Homo sapiens: one gene and its partners. The protein of the gene in region 1 purifies or fractionates together with the protein of each later gene. This does not show direct contact. Each region holds a gene or a part of one and is shown in the gene's direction. Other genes may lie near its edges.

Region 1 (5,584 bases):
CCAGTTTGGATGTCCTTTATTTCTTGCTTTTTTAAAAAAATTATACTTTTTAAGTTCTAGGGTACATATGCACAACGTCCAGGTTTGTTACATAGGTATACATGTGCCATGTTTCTTTGCTGCACCCATCAACTCGTCATTTACATTAGATATTTCTCCTAATGTTATCCCTACCCCAGCCCCTGACTCCCCACCTACCAGCCCTGGTATGTGATGTTCCTCACCCTGTGTCCATGTGTTCTCATTGTTCAGCTCCCACCTATGAGTGAAAACATGCGGTGTTTGGTTTTCTGACCTTGTGATAGTTTGCTTAGAATGATGGTTTCCATCTTCATCTATGTCCCTGCAAACGTGGATGTCCTTTATTTCTTTATATTATCTGATTGCTGTAGCTAGGACTTCCAGTACTGTCTTGAATAACAGTGGTGAAAGTGGCCATCCTTTTTCTAGATCTTGAAGGAAAGGCTTTCAGTTTTTCCCCATTCAATATGATACTAGCTGTGGGTCTATCGTATATAACTTTTTTTTTTTTTTTTTGAGACAGAGCCTTGCTCTGTTGTTCTGGCTGGCGTGCAGTGGTGCCATCTTGGCTCACTGTAACCTCTCCCTCCCAGGTTCAAGCAATTCTCATGCTTCAGCCTCCCAAGCAGCTGGGACTACAGGCATGCACCACCATACCAAGGCTAATTTTTTGTATTTTTAGTAGAGGCAAGGTTTTGCCGTGTTGGCCAGGCTGGTCTCAAACTCCTGGACTCAAGTGACCCGCCCCCTCAGCCTCCCAAAGTGCTGGGATTACAGGCATGAGCCACCTTGCCCAGCCATATATGGCTTTTATTATGCTGGGATATGTTCCTTCTGTGCCCAGTTTTTTGAGGATTTTTATCATGAAGGGATGTTGAATTTTATCAAGTGCTTTCTCAGCATTAATTGAAATGATTATATGATTTTTGTTCTTTATTCTGTTGATATAATTTATCACATTGATTGATTCACACATGTTGAACCATCCTTGCATCCCTGGGATAAATCCCACTTGGTCATGATGAATGACTGTTTTAATGTATTGTTGAATTTGCTTTACTAGTATTTTGTTGAGGATTTTTGCATCAGTATTCATTAGAGATATTGGCCTGTAGTTTTCTTTCTTTGATGCGTCTTTGTTAGTTTTGGTATCAGAGTAATACTGGCCTCATAGAGTGAGTTCGGAAGTATTCTCTCCTCTATTTTTGGGAACAGTTTGAATAGGATTAGAATGCTTCCTTAAATGTTTGGTAGAATTCAGCCATCAGGTCCTGGGCTTTTCTTTTCTTTATTTTATTTTATTTTATTTTTTAAGACACAGTCTCACACTGTCGCCCAGCCTGGAGTACAGTGGCGCGATCTTGGCTCACTGCAAGCTCCACCTTCTGAGTTCACGCCATTCTCCTTCCTCAGCCTCCCAAGTAGCTGGGACTACAGGTGCCCGCCACAATGCCCGGCTAATTTTTTGCATTTTTAGTAGAGACAGGGGTTTCACTGTGTTAGTCAGGATGGTCTTGATCTCCTGACCTCGTGATCCGCCTGTCTCGGCCTCCCAAAGTGCTGGGATTACAGGCATGAGCCACCACGAGGTCCTGGGCTTTTCTTTATGGGGAGGAAAAGAACTTTAGAATTCAGTAAAGTTGCAGGATACAAAATCAACATACAAAAATCAGTAGTATTTTATTATGACTTTGATCTTGTTACTTGTTATTGGTCTGTCTAGGTTTCAAATTTCTTCATGGATCAATCTTGGTGTTTTATATGTGTCTAGGAATTTATCCATTTCCTTTGGATTTTCCAATTTATTGGCATATAGTTGCTCATAGTAGCCGCAAATGATCCTTTGAATTTCTGTGGTATCAGTTGTAATGTCTCCTTTTTCATCTCTAATTTTATTTTATTATTTATTTATTTTTTTGAGATGTGGTCTGTCACCTAGGCTGGAGTGCAGTGGTGCAGTCGTGATGCACTGCAACCTCTGTCTCCCCTGGCTCAAGCAATCCTCCCACCTCAGCCTCCCAGGTAGCTGGGACCACAGGCATGCACCACCACACCTGGCTAATTTTTTATATTTTTGGTAGAGATGAGGTTTCACCATGTTGCCCAGGCTGGTCTCAAACTCCTGAGCTCAAGTGCCTGCCTCACCCTCCCAAAGTGCTAGGATTATAGGCATGAGCTACCTTGTCCAGCTGCCTCTGATTTTATTTATTTGGATCTTCTCTCTTTTTTCTTTTTTTTTTTTTTAGTATTTATTGATCATTCTTGGGTGTTTCTCGGAGAGGGGGATTTGGCAGGGTCATAGGACAATAGTGGAGGGAAGGTCCTCTCTTTTTCTTAGTCTGACTAAAGGTTTGTCAACTTTGTGTATCTTTTAAAAAAACCCAACTTTTTGTTTGAGTGACCTTATGTATTTTCATTTCAATTTCATTTATTTCTGCTCTAATCTTTATTATTTATTTTCTTCTACTAAGTTTTTTTTTTTTCCTTTTAAACAGAGTCTTGCTCTGTCATGCAGGCCGGAGCACAGGGACATGATTATAGTTCACTACAGCCTCAACCTCCTGGTGCCCAAGTGATCTTTCTACCTCAGACTCCTGAGTAGCTGGGACTACAGGTGTGCACCACCACGCCTGGCTAAGTTTTGTATTTTTTATAGCGATGAGGTTTTGCCATGTTGCCAAGGCTGGTCTCAAATTACTGGGCTCAAGCAATCTGCCGGCCTCAGCCTCTCAAATTGCTGGCCTCTTCTACTAATTTTGGGTTTGGTTTGCTCTTGCTTTTCTAATTCTTTAAGATGTGTTATTAGGTTACGTATTTGAAGTTTTTCCTCTTTTTTTGATGTAGGCATTTATAGCCGTAAGTTTCTGTCTTAGTACTGCTTTCACTGTATCTCATAGCTTTTGGTGTGTTGTGTTTCCATTATCATTTGTTTCATGAAATTTCTCAATTTCCTTAATTTCTTCATTGACCTATTGGTCATTCAGGAGCATATTGCTTAATTTCCATGTGTTTGTATAGTTTCCAAAATTCTTCTTGTTATTGATTTCTAGTTTACTTGTGGTCAGAGAAGATACTTGGTATCATTTCAGGGTTTTTGTTTTTTTTTTTTTGAGACAGGGTCTTGCTCTGTCTGAAGTGCAGTGGCATGATCTCGGCTCACTGCAACTTCCACCTCCTGGGTTCAAGCGATTTTCCTGCCTCAGCCTCCCAAGTAGCTGGGACTACAGGTGCACGCCACCATGCCCAGCTAATTTTTGCATTTTCAGTAGAGATGGGGTTTCGCCATGTTTGCCAGGCTGATCTCAAACTCCTGACCTCAGGTGATCTGCCCACCTCAGCCTCCCAAAGGGTTGGGATTACAGGCGTGAGCCACCGCACCCAACCTTTTTAATGTTTTAAGACTTGTTTTGTGACTTAACATGTGTTCTATCCTTGAGAATCATCCATGTGATGAGAAGAATATGTATTCTGCAGCAGTTGGATGAAATGTTCTGTAAATATCTATTAGGTCCATTTGTTCTATATTGCAGATTAACTCCAATGTTTCTTTGTTGATTTTCTGTCTGCACGATCTGTCCAATGCTGAAAGTGGGGTGTTGAAGTCTCCAGCTATTATTGTATTGAGGTCTCTCTCTTTCCCTGTAATGTTTAATTTATATATCTGGGTGCACCAGCACTGGGTACATATTTATTTATAGTTGTTATAGCCTCTTGAAGAATTGACCCTTTTATTATTATATAATGACCTTTTTTGTCTCTTCTTACAGTTTTTGTCTTGAAATCTATTTTGTCTGATATTAGTATAACTACTTTTGTCCTTGTTTGGTTTTCATTGGCGTGGAATATCTTTGTCCATCCCTTTATTATTTTTGGTCTATGTGTCTCTTTATAGGTGAAGTGTGTTTCTTGTAGGAAACAGATTCACTGGGTCTTGCTTTTTAATCCATTCAGCCAGTCTGTGTCTTTGGATTGGAGAATTTAGTCTGTTTACATTCAATGTTATCAATAAGTAAGGACTTCTGCCATTTTGTTACTTGTTTTCTGGTTGTTTTGTGGTCTTCTCTTCCTTTTTACCTTCCTTCTTGTCTTTTGGTAAAGATGATTTTCTCTTGTGGCATATTTAATTTCTTGCTTTGTGTGTGTGTGTATCTGTTGTATGTTTTTTGACTTGAGGTTACCATGAGGCTTGCAAATACTGTCTTATAACCCACTATTTTAAACTGATGACAACAAAGATTGCATAAACATGCAAAAAAGAAAACTAATAAAAACTCTACACTTTAACTTTATCTCTCTGCTTTTTAACTTTTTGTTGTTTCTCTTTACATCTATTGTACTGTCTACGTCTTGAAAATTTATTTTTGATTGGCTTATCATTTAGTCTTTCTACATAAGAGCAGTTTACACACCACAATTATAGTGTTATAATATTCTATGTTTTTCTATGTGCTTACTATCACCAGTGAGTTTTGTACCTTTAGATGACTTTTTTTTTTTTTAGATGGAGTCTTGCTCTGGCACCAGGCTGGAGTGCAGTGGCGCCATCTTGGCTCACTGCAACCTCCGCCTCCCGGGTTCAAGCGATTCTCCTGCCTCAGCCTCCCAAGTAGCTGGGACTTCAGGCGGCCGCCACTATGCCCGGCTAATTTTTGTAGTTTTTGTAGAGACGGGGTTTCACTATATTGGCCAGGCTGGTTTTGAACTCCTGACCTTGTGATCTGCCCGCCTCAGCCTCCCAAAGTGCTGGGATTACAGGTGTGAGCCACCGCACCTGGACTCCTTTAGATTATTTTTCATTGCTGATTAATGTTCTTTTCTTTCAGATTGAAGAACTCCCTCTAGCATTTCTTGTAGAAAAGGTCTGGTGTTGATGAAATCCCTCAACTTTTATTTGTCTGGGAAACTATTTCTCCTTCATGCTTGAAGGATATTTGCACCAGCTATACTACTCTAGGGTAAATTTTTTTTTTCCCCCTTGGCACTTTAAATATGTCTTGCCACTATCTCCTGGCTTGTAAGGTTTCCACTGAAAAGTCTACTGGCAGACATATGGGAGCTCCATTATATGTTATTTGTTTCTTTTCTCTTGCTGCTTTTAGGATCCTTTCTTTATCCTTGATCTTTGGGAGTTTGATTATTAAATGCCTTGAAGTAGTCTTCTTTGGGTTAAACCTGCTTGGTGTTCTATAGCCTTCTTGTACTTGAACGTTGATCTCTTTCTCTAGGTTTGGGAAGTTCTCATATTATTTCTTTGAATAAACTTTCTACCTCTATCTCTTTCACTATCTCCTCTTTAAGGCCAATAACTCTGAGATTTGCCCTTTTGAGGCTGTTTCTAGATTTTTTAGACATACATTATTTCTTTTTTTTTTTTTTTTTTTTTTTGAGACGGAGTCTCCCTCTGTCACCAGGCTGGGGTGCAGTGGCGCGATCTCAGCTCACTGCAATCTCCGCCTCCCAGGTTCAAGCGATTCTCCTGCCTCAGCCTCCTGAGTAGCTGGGATTACAGGCACACACCACCATGCCCAGCTACTTTTTGTATTATTATTATTTTTTTTGAGAC
Region 2 (3,500 bases), about 94 Mb from region 1:
CAAAATAATAGGGGGAATAAGTGTATACAACTCTCCCTTGAGAGTGACTGTACATTAAAAATACAGTTAATTTCTAAAAATATTTTTTAACTTTAGGATTATGGATAACATATACTAAGATTCTCATGGAAGTTAGGAATATTTTAAATACATCCAGATATTTAATAATGTTCAGATGCTTTTAATTACAGAACCTCATAGAAATTCTTTCTCAGGGAGATTCTTCAAGCAATCACTATGTCAACAGACACAGGTGTTTCCCTTCCTTCATATGAGGAAGATCAGGGATCAAAACTCATTCGAAAAGCTAAAGAGGCACCATTCGTACCCGTTGGTAAGTTTGACTGACATTTTAGTAGTCTTGAATATGGTAGAGCCGTGATAATTTGTTCATTTAGCAATATCCTGAAAGAATGTATTTTCCATTTTTTTCTTATGTTGAAATATGCTGAGATTGGCATGATATAAATCTCATCATAAAGATTCTTCTGTATGTATTCAGACTTTTTTTTTCTTTTTGGAGACAGGGTCTCTTTCACCTAGACTGAAGTGCAGTGGCTTGATCATAGCTCACTGCCCCCATCCCTCGACCTCTCAGGTTCTTGATCCTCCCACCTCAGCCTCCTAAGTAGCTGGGACCACAGGTGTGCACCACCACGCCCAGCGAATTTTTGTAGTTTTGTATAGACACGGGGTTTTGCGATACTGCCTAGGCTAGTCTTGAACTCCTGGGCTCAAGCAATCCGCCTGCCCTCAGCCTAGTGCTAGGATTATAGGCGTGAGCTGCCACTCCAGCTGAGACTTCTTATTTTATTGAGTCTTATTTCAGTGCATAATGTTGTATTGGGGGACCCCAAGACCATCCTCAGGTTAGATGATTGGGCCAAGACTCATAAGACTCAAAAATGCTTGTTACAGTCATAGTTTATTACAGCAATGGGATATAGGTTAAAGTCAACAAAGACATATAGAATGAAGTGTAGGATAAACCAGACACAAAATTCTAGGTGTCCCCTTCCCAGGGAGTCCCACAGGGGGAGAGGGGGTGCATTTAATTCTTCAGTACTGATGTGATATGTGGCAATACATGCTAAGTCTTGCCATCTAGGGAAGCCCACCAAGCCTTGGTAACCAGGTTTTATTGAGGTGTCAGCTGTGACTGAAATTAGCTATTCAGTCTCCTATCCCCCAGAGGTCGGACTCGCAGGCATATTAAAATTCATTTAATATGCAGTTAAAACAGATGAAAGGTGAAATTTATAGTATATAAATTAATCTTAAGAAAAAGTTTAAAAATTTTTAATCTTACAGAGAATTTTAAAATTACCTTTAATGCCACCATTTAGATATAACTGTTGTTACCATTTTGATGTACATATTTCTCCAGTTGTTTTTTCTTTTTTTATCTTCACAAATTCAGGATCATACTAAGATGCATATATGTATTATAATTTTTATCTCATGTTTTTAACTATGTTATTCGAAACTCGACTTTTTTTTTTTTTTCCGAGAAGGAGTTTCACTCTTGTTGCCCAGGCTGGAGTGCAGTGGCGCGATATCGGCTCACTGCAACCTCCACCTCTTGGGTTCAAGCGATTCTTCTGCCTCAGCCTCCTGAGTAGCTAGAATTATAGGTGCCCGCCGCCACGCCAGCTAATTTCTTTGTATTTTTAGTAGAGATGGGGGTTTCATCATGTTGGCCAGGCTGGTCTCGAACTCCTGATCTCAGGTGATCCACCTGCCTCGGCCTCCCAAAGTGCTGGGATTACAGGTGTGAGCCACCGTGCCTGGCCTAAAACTCTACTTTTTTTTTTTTTGAAACGGAGTCTTGCTCTGTCGCCCAGGCTGGAGTGCAGTGGCAGGATCTTGGCTCACTGCAAGCTCCGCCTCCCGAGTTCACGCCATTCTCCTGCCTCAGCCTCCCGAGTAGCTGGGACTACAGGTGCTCGCCACCACGCCTGGCTAATTTTTTCTATCTTTTAGTAGAGACAGGGTTTCACCGTGTTAGCCAGGATGATCTCGATCTCCTGATCTTGTGATCCGCCCGCCTCGGCCTCCCAAAGTGCTGGAATTATAGGCGTGAGCCACCGCGCCCGGCCAAAACTCCACTTTTAAGAATGACTTAATTTATATGATATAAATTACTGTTGTATATAACATTATTATAATCCTCTTGGTAGAAATTTATGTGATTTCTAATTTTTCATTATTAACAATTAAACTACTGAGCATCCTTTTAGATGGCTCTCCAAGAAGTTAAAGGACTTTGAAGTCTCTTGAAGGAATTTTTCTTCTGACCATATAATTAATAAGTTAGTTGCAAAAGTACATAAAACAGAAAGGTACCATGTCCTATGATCCCGACTCTGAAAGACAACAGCAGTCTGCACAGTCTGTCAGTGTTTTCTTCTCTGTGTACTACCATAAACTATTATTTATAATTATTTTTAGATGAAATATTTTTCTTTAGCCTTGTTCATTATCTTTTTATAACAATGCATATAGGAACATTTATATTTTTAATAATTGAATCATTAATTTTGTAGATATACAATGTTTTGTAACAGTGATCTATAAAATTTTTTGGTTGTATATTCCCTCAGTAAAAAATAATTTGAGCACGTACTTCCTGCCAGTGTGTTGTGTGTTTACCTATTTTTAAGTCATTTATGACTTTTAAGTCATTTAAGTCATTATGAAATACGCAGAAAGACATTTCAAAAGGATAAGATACAAATATAAAATTTTCTGCTCTTTAATGGGTTGTCATTTATACATATCCCTTCTTGGGAGTACATAAACCCTACATTGATTTAACCATTGCTGTATTGACGACATAGGAGTTGTTCCCATTATGTTGATTTTACAAACTGTTGGAAGACTGTGTGTGTAAAAATTAAATATCCTTATATACTTAATTGTACCAAAACAATGATTTACACCAATAGGCTGTGATGGGCTGGTTTTCCCATACTCTCAGTAGCACTAGATATTATCATTCTTTGAGCATCTTTTCATATGTATTGGTCATTCAGGCTTCTCTTCTGTGAATTAGCTTTTTTGTTTTTGCTTTTGTTTCTGTTTTAACTAGGATGTCTTTTTCTAATTAAATTATAATTATGTATTTTAGGTATTAATGTTTTCTTAATATGTTGCAAGGCCTTCATGATCCTGGGATTACTTAGGTTCCTGTATTTCCTTATGTTGTGCATTTATCATTGAGATACTAATCTATCTGGAATTTATTTGTAGGTATGACATGAGGCAAAATCTAACTTATTTTCCGTATGGATACTTTAATTTTCTATCACAGTGATTTGGGTATCTGTTTTGCATTCTTTTTCCACTTATTTGAAATGTGAACTATGTCATATACTAAACATATGAGAGATTTGTTACTCAACTACTGTATGTATTTTGTTGCTTTGATCTGTCTGCCAGAAACTTAGTGGTATGTTTAGATACCTCATAAGCCAGTACACTTTCACTATTCTACCTTC
Region 3 (2,690 bases), on another chromosome or scaffold:
TAGGGGATTATGTAGACTAAAAGCCTAGAAGTTCTGCCCACATCCTTATGACGCAGCCAATCTGGAGCTTCATGTTTCCTTCTAAAAGTAGTAACCGGGTAGAAGTGGGTGACCCATTGAGGACACATGATGTGAGGTATTTCTGCCGGATTCTAGGTTAGCAAAGACTCAAATGGGTGACTCATGAATGAAGGGAGAACAGGCACAGGACTTAATGAAAAGAGTTTCTTGAACTTAGTTTTCTGAATGGGGGTGGGGAGTTGGGGCACGTGTGTGTAAGGGGAGGCTGCCTCACTTTGAAGGAATGGTGTTGGCTAACAGGATCCATGAAATTCCTAGGTCAGTTGAATAATAACTGAACTACTGGTTTGACTGTGGATTATTTCCTGGGTATTAGTGGGACCCAACAGCACATTGCTATTAATAGTATGGAAATAATGGTCCCTCTGTTTCATTGAATTGCTGAAGTAATGATAATGCCATGAACCAGGAGAAGATGGTTGTGGGGGTTTCTAGGAAGCAGCTGCTGTGACAGGCCAATCCCAGGCTTGCCCCCGAGCCCTCCTGTCCTTCTGGGTTTGTGTTTGCCTTGCCTGGTGCTTCCTCCCTCATTGTGTTGTTGAATAGACCTAGGCAGCCTTGTATCCATAGAAAGCCTCCACTGCTGGGCCGGGGAGGGGGTTGTGGTAAGGGCCCTCTGGAAATCAAGCAGAGAATGCCTTTGCAGTGGTCTCCCGGGCATTGGGCAGGGCCTAGCCTTTTGCAGCCCCCAGAGGACCTTGCCTGCATAAAGCACTCAGAAGGGTTAGCCACCTGGTGATTTTGTCTCTAGTGAAACTGTGTTTGCCGATAATCATCCACATAGCCACCTCTGTCCTCGCAGTTTGGATGCCTTTTTTTGACACCTGCGCTAGGTTCTTGTATGCTGGCTTTTCTTAAAGGAACAGCAGAGTAGAAAAGAGGTTGAGAATGTTTTCTAGCAGGCAGAATGTGCATACATGTTTTCATGAGTGTCCTTTGGGTGCTGTTTCTTTTAAATCCTCTGTGCACAGGGCTCTGGCCTTTAGTAAACTGTTTTTCTGTCTTACGTCATGCTGACTGGGTGCTAGGGGCTGATTACAAAGGGGAAGAGTTGAACAGACATCAGGGGCCGATGAAACCAAAGGACTAGGAGTCAGGAGAACAAGTCAGGGATTAGGAGACAGCGGTTTGGTTTATTGTTATCCAGCTGGAGGACTCCTAGGGGCAGCAGCAGGAGGAATACCAGGGCCACGGAGGGGCCAGGAGTCTCACAGTGGAGGGCAGACTCTAACAGATGCCAGCTGAACGCTCGCTGGCCCTGGATGTCATACGAGTTGGGGACCAGAAATCTGGGCTCAGAGAACCCGTCCAGGGAGATTTGAAGCCATGGGTTATCTTCTAGAGTTGATACTGATAATATATTTTAATTTTTATTGATGTTTAATACCTTCTGAAACAGGAGGGTAAGATCAGATGGGAAGCCCCTCTGTTGAAGGATCTTGGGAACCTTGGTGGTTTTTTTTTTTTTTTTGGTTTTTTTTTTTTGATCGAGCTGTGGACATCCTTCTTAATTCGATTCTGAGGATTTGTTTAACTAAAAAGTTCCCAAACACAGAAAGGGCCTCCCCACCTGCTTTGGGGAGCTGTCTGTGCTGGGAGTGCCAGGCATCCCATGGGACCCATCACTGCCAGTGTCTGTGCCTCCCAGAGGTCAGCCGTGTCTGCCCTGGCTCTGTCTCCTCTGTGACAGGGCAGAGCATTTCTGGTCAGTTTCTCCATGGTGCCTCCCACCCCTTTGTAAAGTGGATGGACATGATGGAATTCAGTTGTCTCACCCTGATAGCCTGGGTGTTGATATTCACTTTACCCGCACTCAGACACAGGCGACCTTGAAGCAGTTCTCGGTGTGTAGAGTCCACGTGACAGTCCCCACAGCCTCCCCAGATAGCTGTGTGCCTGTGCGCTACTGCTGTGCCATTTTCCCAACTTGGCGTTTCACTAAATGCAGCTGATCTCTCTCTCTGTGCACTCGTGATCCATGTTGAACAATACATGTAGGTTCTTTTTCCACGCAATGTAAGAACATGATATACTGTACGTTGGAAAGCATTTACCTTATTTATATACCTGAATGTTCCTACTACACAAATAAACATATATTAAATTCTAGATCATGTGTGGTTTTCGATGGTGGGGGTGGCGGAAGGCCAGGGGTGTGGACGTTTGGTTGCTTATGTGGAGCCAGCATTATTTCCCAGGATGCTGCTGACCACCGCTTGCTTCTAGAGACTCCCTCTGTCCTTGGCCTTGGCAACCTGCCCCCCCGGCTTTCCTCCTGCCCTTGGTTGCTCCTCCTCGGTCTTCTTTCTGGGTGTCTCTTTTCTGGGCCATCCCTTGGGTGGTGGCATTCTGCCTGAGGCTCTCTTTCGCCCACTGAATTCTCCCCTCTAGGTGTTCCCACCCCCTCCCAGGATCCTGATCACCACACTCATTTCAACACTTCCCAAGTCCATGTCTCTAGCCCAAGTGGGCCTGCATTTCCAGCTGCCTGTGAGGCCTCTCACACAGACTTTGCATGATAAAACCCAAACCTATGACCCATGTCCTGAGTCCTGTGTTCTCTAACTACCCATGTGTTCTGTCACACAAGCCAGTAACTGGAGTGATCT
Region 4 (3,500 bases), on another chromosome or scaffold:
CTTAGCTGTGACAATGTCTTAGTCTTTTTTTTTTGAGATGGAGTCTCGCTTTGTGGCCCAGGCTGGAGTGCAGTGGCACGATCTCGGCTCACTGCAAGCTCTGCCTCCCGGGTTCACGCCATTCTCCTGCCTCAGCCTCCCGAGTAGCTGGGACTACAGGCGCCCGCTGTGACAATGTCTTAGTCTTTTTTTTTTTTTTTTTTTGAGATGGAGTCTCGCTCTGTGGCCCAGGCTGGAGTGCAGTGGCACGATCTCGGCTCACTGCAAGCTCTGCCTCCCGGGTTCACGCCATTCTCCTGCCTCAGCCTCCCGAGTAGCAGGGACTACAGGCGCCCGCCACCACGCCTGGCTAATTTTTTGTATTTTTAGTAGAGACAGGGTTTCACTGTGTTCGCCAGGATGGTCTCAATCTCCTGACCTCATGATCCGCCCGCCTCGGCCTCCCAAAGTGCTGGGATTACAGGCGTGAGCCACCGCGGCCGGTGACAATGTCGACAATGTCTTAGTCTTACCTTGATTTTCATGACCTTGAACAAGTTTGAGGACTGGTCAGTTATTTTGTAGTATGCCCCCAATTTGGGTTTGTCTGATGTTTTCCTTATTATTAGACTGGGGTTGTGAGTTTTTGGGAAAAATACACAGAGGTGAGGTGCTCTTCTTTTTTTTTTTTTTGAGATGGAGTTTCGCTCTTGTTGCCCATGCTCGCGTGCAATGGTGCGATTTCAGCTCACTGCAACCTTTGCCTCCTGGGTTCAAGCAATTCTGTCTCAGCCTCCCGAGTAGCTGGGACTACAGGTGCATGCCACCATGCCTGGCTAATTTTTGTATTTTTAGTAGAGACAGGGTTTCACCATATTGGTCAGGCTGGTCTTGAACTCCTGACCTCAGGTGATCCGCCCGCCTCAGCCTCCCAAAGTGCTGGGATTACAGGCGTGAGCCACCACGCCTGGCCAAGCTACCCTTCTTACCACATCATAGCAGAGAGTACATGCTGTCCACATGAAATCACTGGTAATGTTAATCTTGGTCACTCAGTTAAGGAGGCATTTGCCAAGTTTCTCCTCTGTAAAGTTACTTTTTTCTCTTTTCCTATTTTATTTTTTGGAAGTGAGTACTAAATATAGCCATGTCCAGCTAATTTTTTTCACTTTTGGTGGAGATGAGGGTCTCACTTTGTTGTCTAGGCTGGTCTCAAACTCCTGGCCTCAAGCTACACTCCTGCCTTGGCCTCCCAAAGTGCTGGGATTACAGGCATGAGCCATTGTTCTGGCCCCTCCCTATCCTATTTATTTATTCATTAGTTTATATCAGTATAGACTCAAATATATTTATTTTATTTATCTTATACTTTGTTTATACCTTGTTTCAGCTTTGGCTATTGGGCATTCTTTTAGGTTGGCCTCTGTCCTTTGGGCGTGTCCTTCCTTTTTTCTTTTTTTCTTTTCTTTTTTTTCTATTATGTCATCTCCTACCGAAAGGACTTTGGTTTCTTAAGCCCTTTTGTACTTCTTTTCACTATAAGATGCTTCAAGATTTTCTTGTATTTTCCTTGCCCTGACTCTAGAATCAACCAATTCTCCAAGGAATCCTGTTATTAGAGAATGGTATTATAAAGCAGGATCTGGGTGCTGCATGTACCTCCTGCTGTTGGAGTATTATAAATTCTAGGCCTTCTCGGTGGACAGAGCTATTACAGATAATATATTAATATATGTATGTATGCCACAGACCTGGTTTTAAATTTTAGCAACTGTTTATGAGCTGTGGGATTTTTGGTAAGTTATTTACCCTAAGTGCTGGCAATTCCATTTGTAAAAGGAGAATAGTAATATTTGCCTTTTAGGGCAGTAGTAAGGATCAAAAATAATGTAACTTAATGTGTTTACAAATAACATTGTTATAACTGTAATTTAACCACTTTTTTTTTGTTTTGTTTTGTTAGGCATAACCAGTTCTGCGTTATGAAGTTTGTAGAGGTGAATGGGTGTGTGTGTGTGTGTGTGTGTGTGTGTGCGTGTGTGTGTTTGTGTGTGTGTTTATAGGCATCTGAAGGGCAGAAAATAGTCTGTAGGAAAAATATTTTAAAATATTTTTATTTTAAACTCAGTGGGCTATTGAGAATGAAGAAATGATTCACTGTTCTTTTTGTAGTCCAAGTTCAGCTGAAAAAGTGAAAGCTAATAAAGATGTAGCTTCACCATTGAAGGAACTGGGTTTAAGAATCAGCAAGTTTTTGGTGAGTAAAAATTAGCACTCGCTCAATTTATTACTTGCAGTGTGGATGTGCGTGGTTATATTGCTAGTGATAGTGAAAATTCAGTTTCTTTTTGTTTTGGGGATTAAATTGTTTTATAAATACCCAGGTTGCAACTCTTCTCCCTAAAAGTTACAAGTCAAAGTTGCCTGATCCATTCACTGCATATCATAGGGTTTTCTTCACCAGACATGTGGTGGTCTTTAAGGTGACTAAGTTTGTCATTTTGGAAGCTCACATCATGCCTACTGCTGTATTAATGTGCTTAGTGAATAAGCATCGTTGTTTCTGGCATGTACATTTAATTGTAATAAAAATTGTATGTCAGTGACTGGCTCTTGTCTTCTATTAGAGTCAGAATTGTTATGTTTTATGAATCTTTGAGAAGCATTTTTGTTTATTCAAGTCCTGTGTTCATTGTAGAAGACAAATCTTTAAATTCTCTGCATCCTGTGTGCGATTTCTGAGCTGTTCCTTACTTAAAATCTCTGTGTTTCAGGGTCTTGATGAAGAACAGAGTGTGCAGTTACTCCAGTGTTACCTGCAAGAGGACTACAGGGGTACTCGGGACTCAGTAAAGGTTTGTGGTTTATGTCAGCTCCTTTCTTCTGCCTTTATCCTTTTTCCCTGTTGGTTTTAGATAATGTAGGATTTTGGCACCAATTCTTTTATCGGTGGTAGGTGATCAGGTACCGTCATCTTCAGGGAAGACCTACTAAAGGCTTTAAAAAAAACATGACCTGGGTGCAATGGCTTGTGCCTGTACTCCCAGCTTCTTGGGAGGCTGAGGCAGGAGGATCACTTGAGTCCAGGAGTTTGAGGCTGCAGTGAACTGTGATCGCACTACTGCACTCCAGCCTAGGCAAAAGAGTGAGACCCTATCTCTTTAAAAAGTAAAGAATATATATGCATATAAGCTGAGATCTGTCTTCATACTTGGAGGAGTGGAGAGGTCAAAGACTGACATGTTAATCATAGAATCTTGGGCTATTAGAGGTGATAAGGATTTGGTAGAGTTTCTTTTTTTTTTGAGATGGAGTTTCGCTCTGTCTCCCAGGCTGGAGTGCAATGGCGTGATCTTGGCTCACTGGAAGCTCTGTCTCCCGGGTTCACGCCATTCTCCTGCCTCAGCCTCCCAAGTAGCTGGGACTATAGGCGCCTGCCACCACGCCCGGCTAATTTTTTGTGTTTTTAGTAGAGACAGGATTTCACCGTGTTAGCCAGGATGGTCTCAATCTCCTGACCT

The links.
Region 2: the proteins of SLC35G2 (region 1) and HIGD1A purify together in Homo sapiens (affinity purification with mass spectrometry; one large-scale study listed by BioGRID and IntAct). This does not show direct contact.
Region 3: the proteins of SLC35G2 (region 1) and CDS2 purify together in Homo sapiens (affinity purification with mass spectrometry; one large-scale study listed by BioGRID and IntAct). This does not show direct contact.
Region 4: the proteins of SLC35G2 (region 1) and NUP188 purify together in Homo sapiens (affinity purification with mass spectrometry; one large-scale study listed by BioGRID and IntAct). This does not show direct contact.

The regions. Positions count from the first base shown.
Region 1 is NC_000003.12:136,824,722-136,830,305, forward strand, and holds part of SLC35G2 (solute carrier family 35 member G2), read left to right. Parts: intron 1-5,584.
Region 2 is NC_000003.12:42,790,991-42,794,490, reverse strand, and holds part of HIGD1A (HIG1 domain family member 1A, mitochondrial), read left to right. Parts: intron 1-191; exon of another isoform or gene 192-215; coding exon of another isoform or gene 216-237; coding exon 238-334; intron 335-3,500. UniProt on the Homo sapiens protein: Proposed subunit of cytochrome c oxidase (COX, complex IV), which is the terminal component of the mitochondrial respiratory chain that catalyzes the reduction of oxygen to water. May play a role in the assembly of respiratory supercomplexes.
Region 3 is NC_000020.11:5,195,698-5,198,387, forward strand, and holds the end of CDS2 (phosphatidate cytidylyltransferase 2), read left to right. Parts: 3' UTR 1-2,190; downstream 2,191-2,690. UniProt on the Homo sapiens protein: Catalyzes the conversion of phosphatidic acid (PA) to CDP-diacylglycerol (CDP-DAG), an essential intermediate in the synthesis of phosphatidylglycerol, cardiolipin and phosphatidylinositol.
Region 4 is NC_000009.12:128,954,199-128,957,698, forward strand, and holds part of NUP188 (nucleoporin NUP188), read left to right. Parts: intron 1-2,151; coding exon 2,152-2,236; intron 2,237-2,753; coding exon 2,754-2,834; intron 2,835-3,500. UniProt on the Homo sapiens protein: Component of the nuclear pore complex (NPC), a complex required for the trafficking across the nuclear envelope. Required for proper protein transport into the nucleus.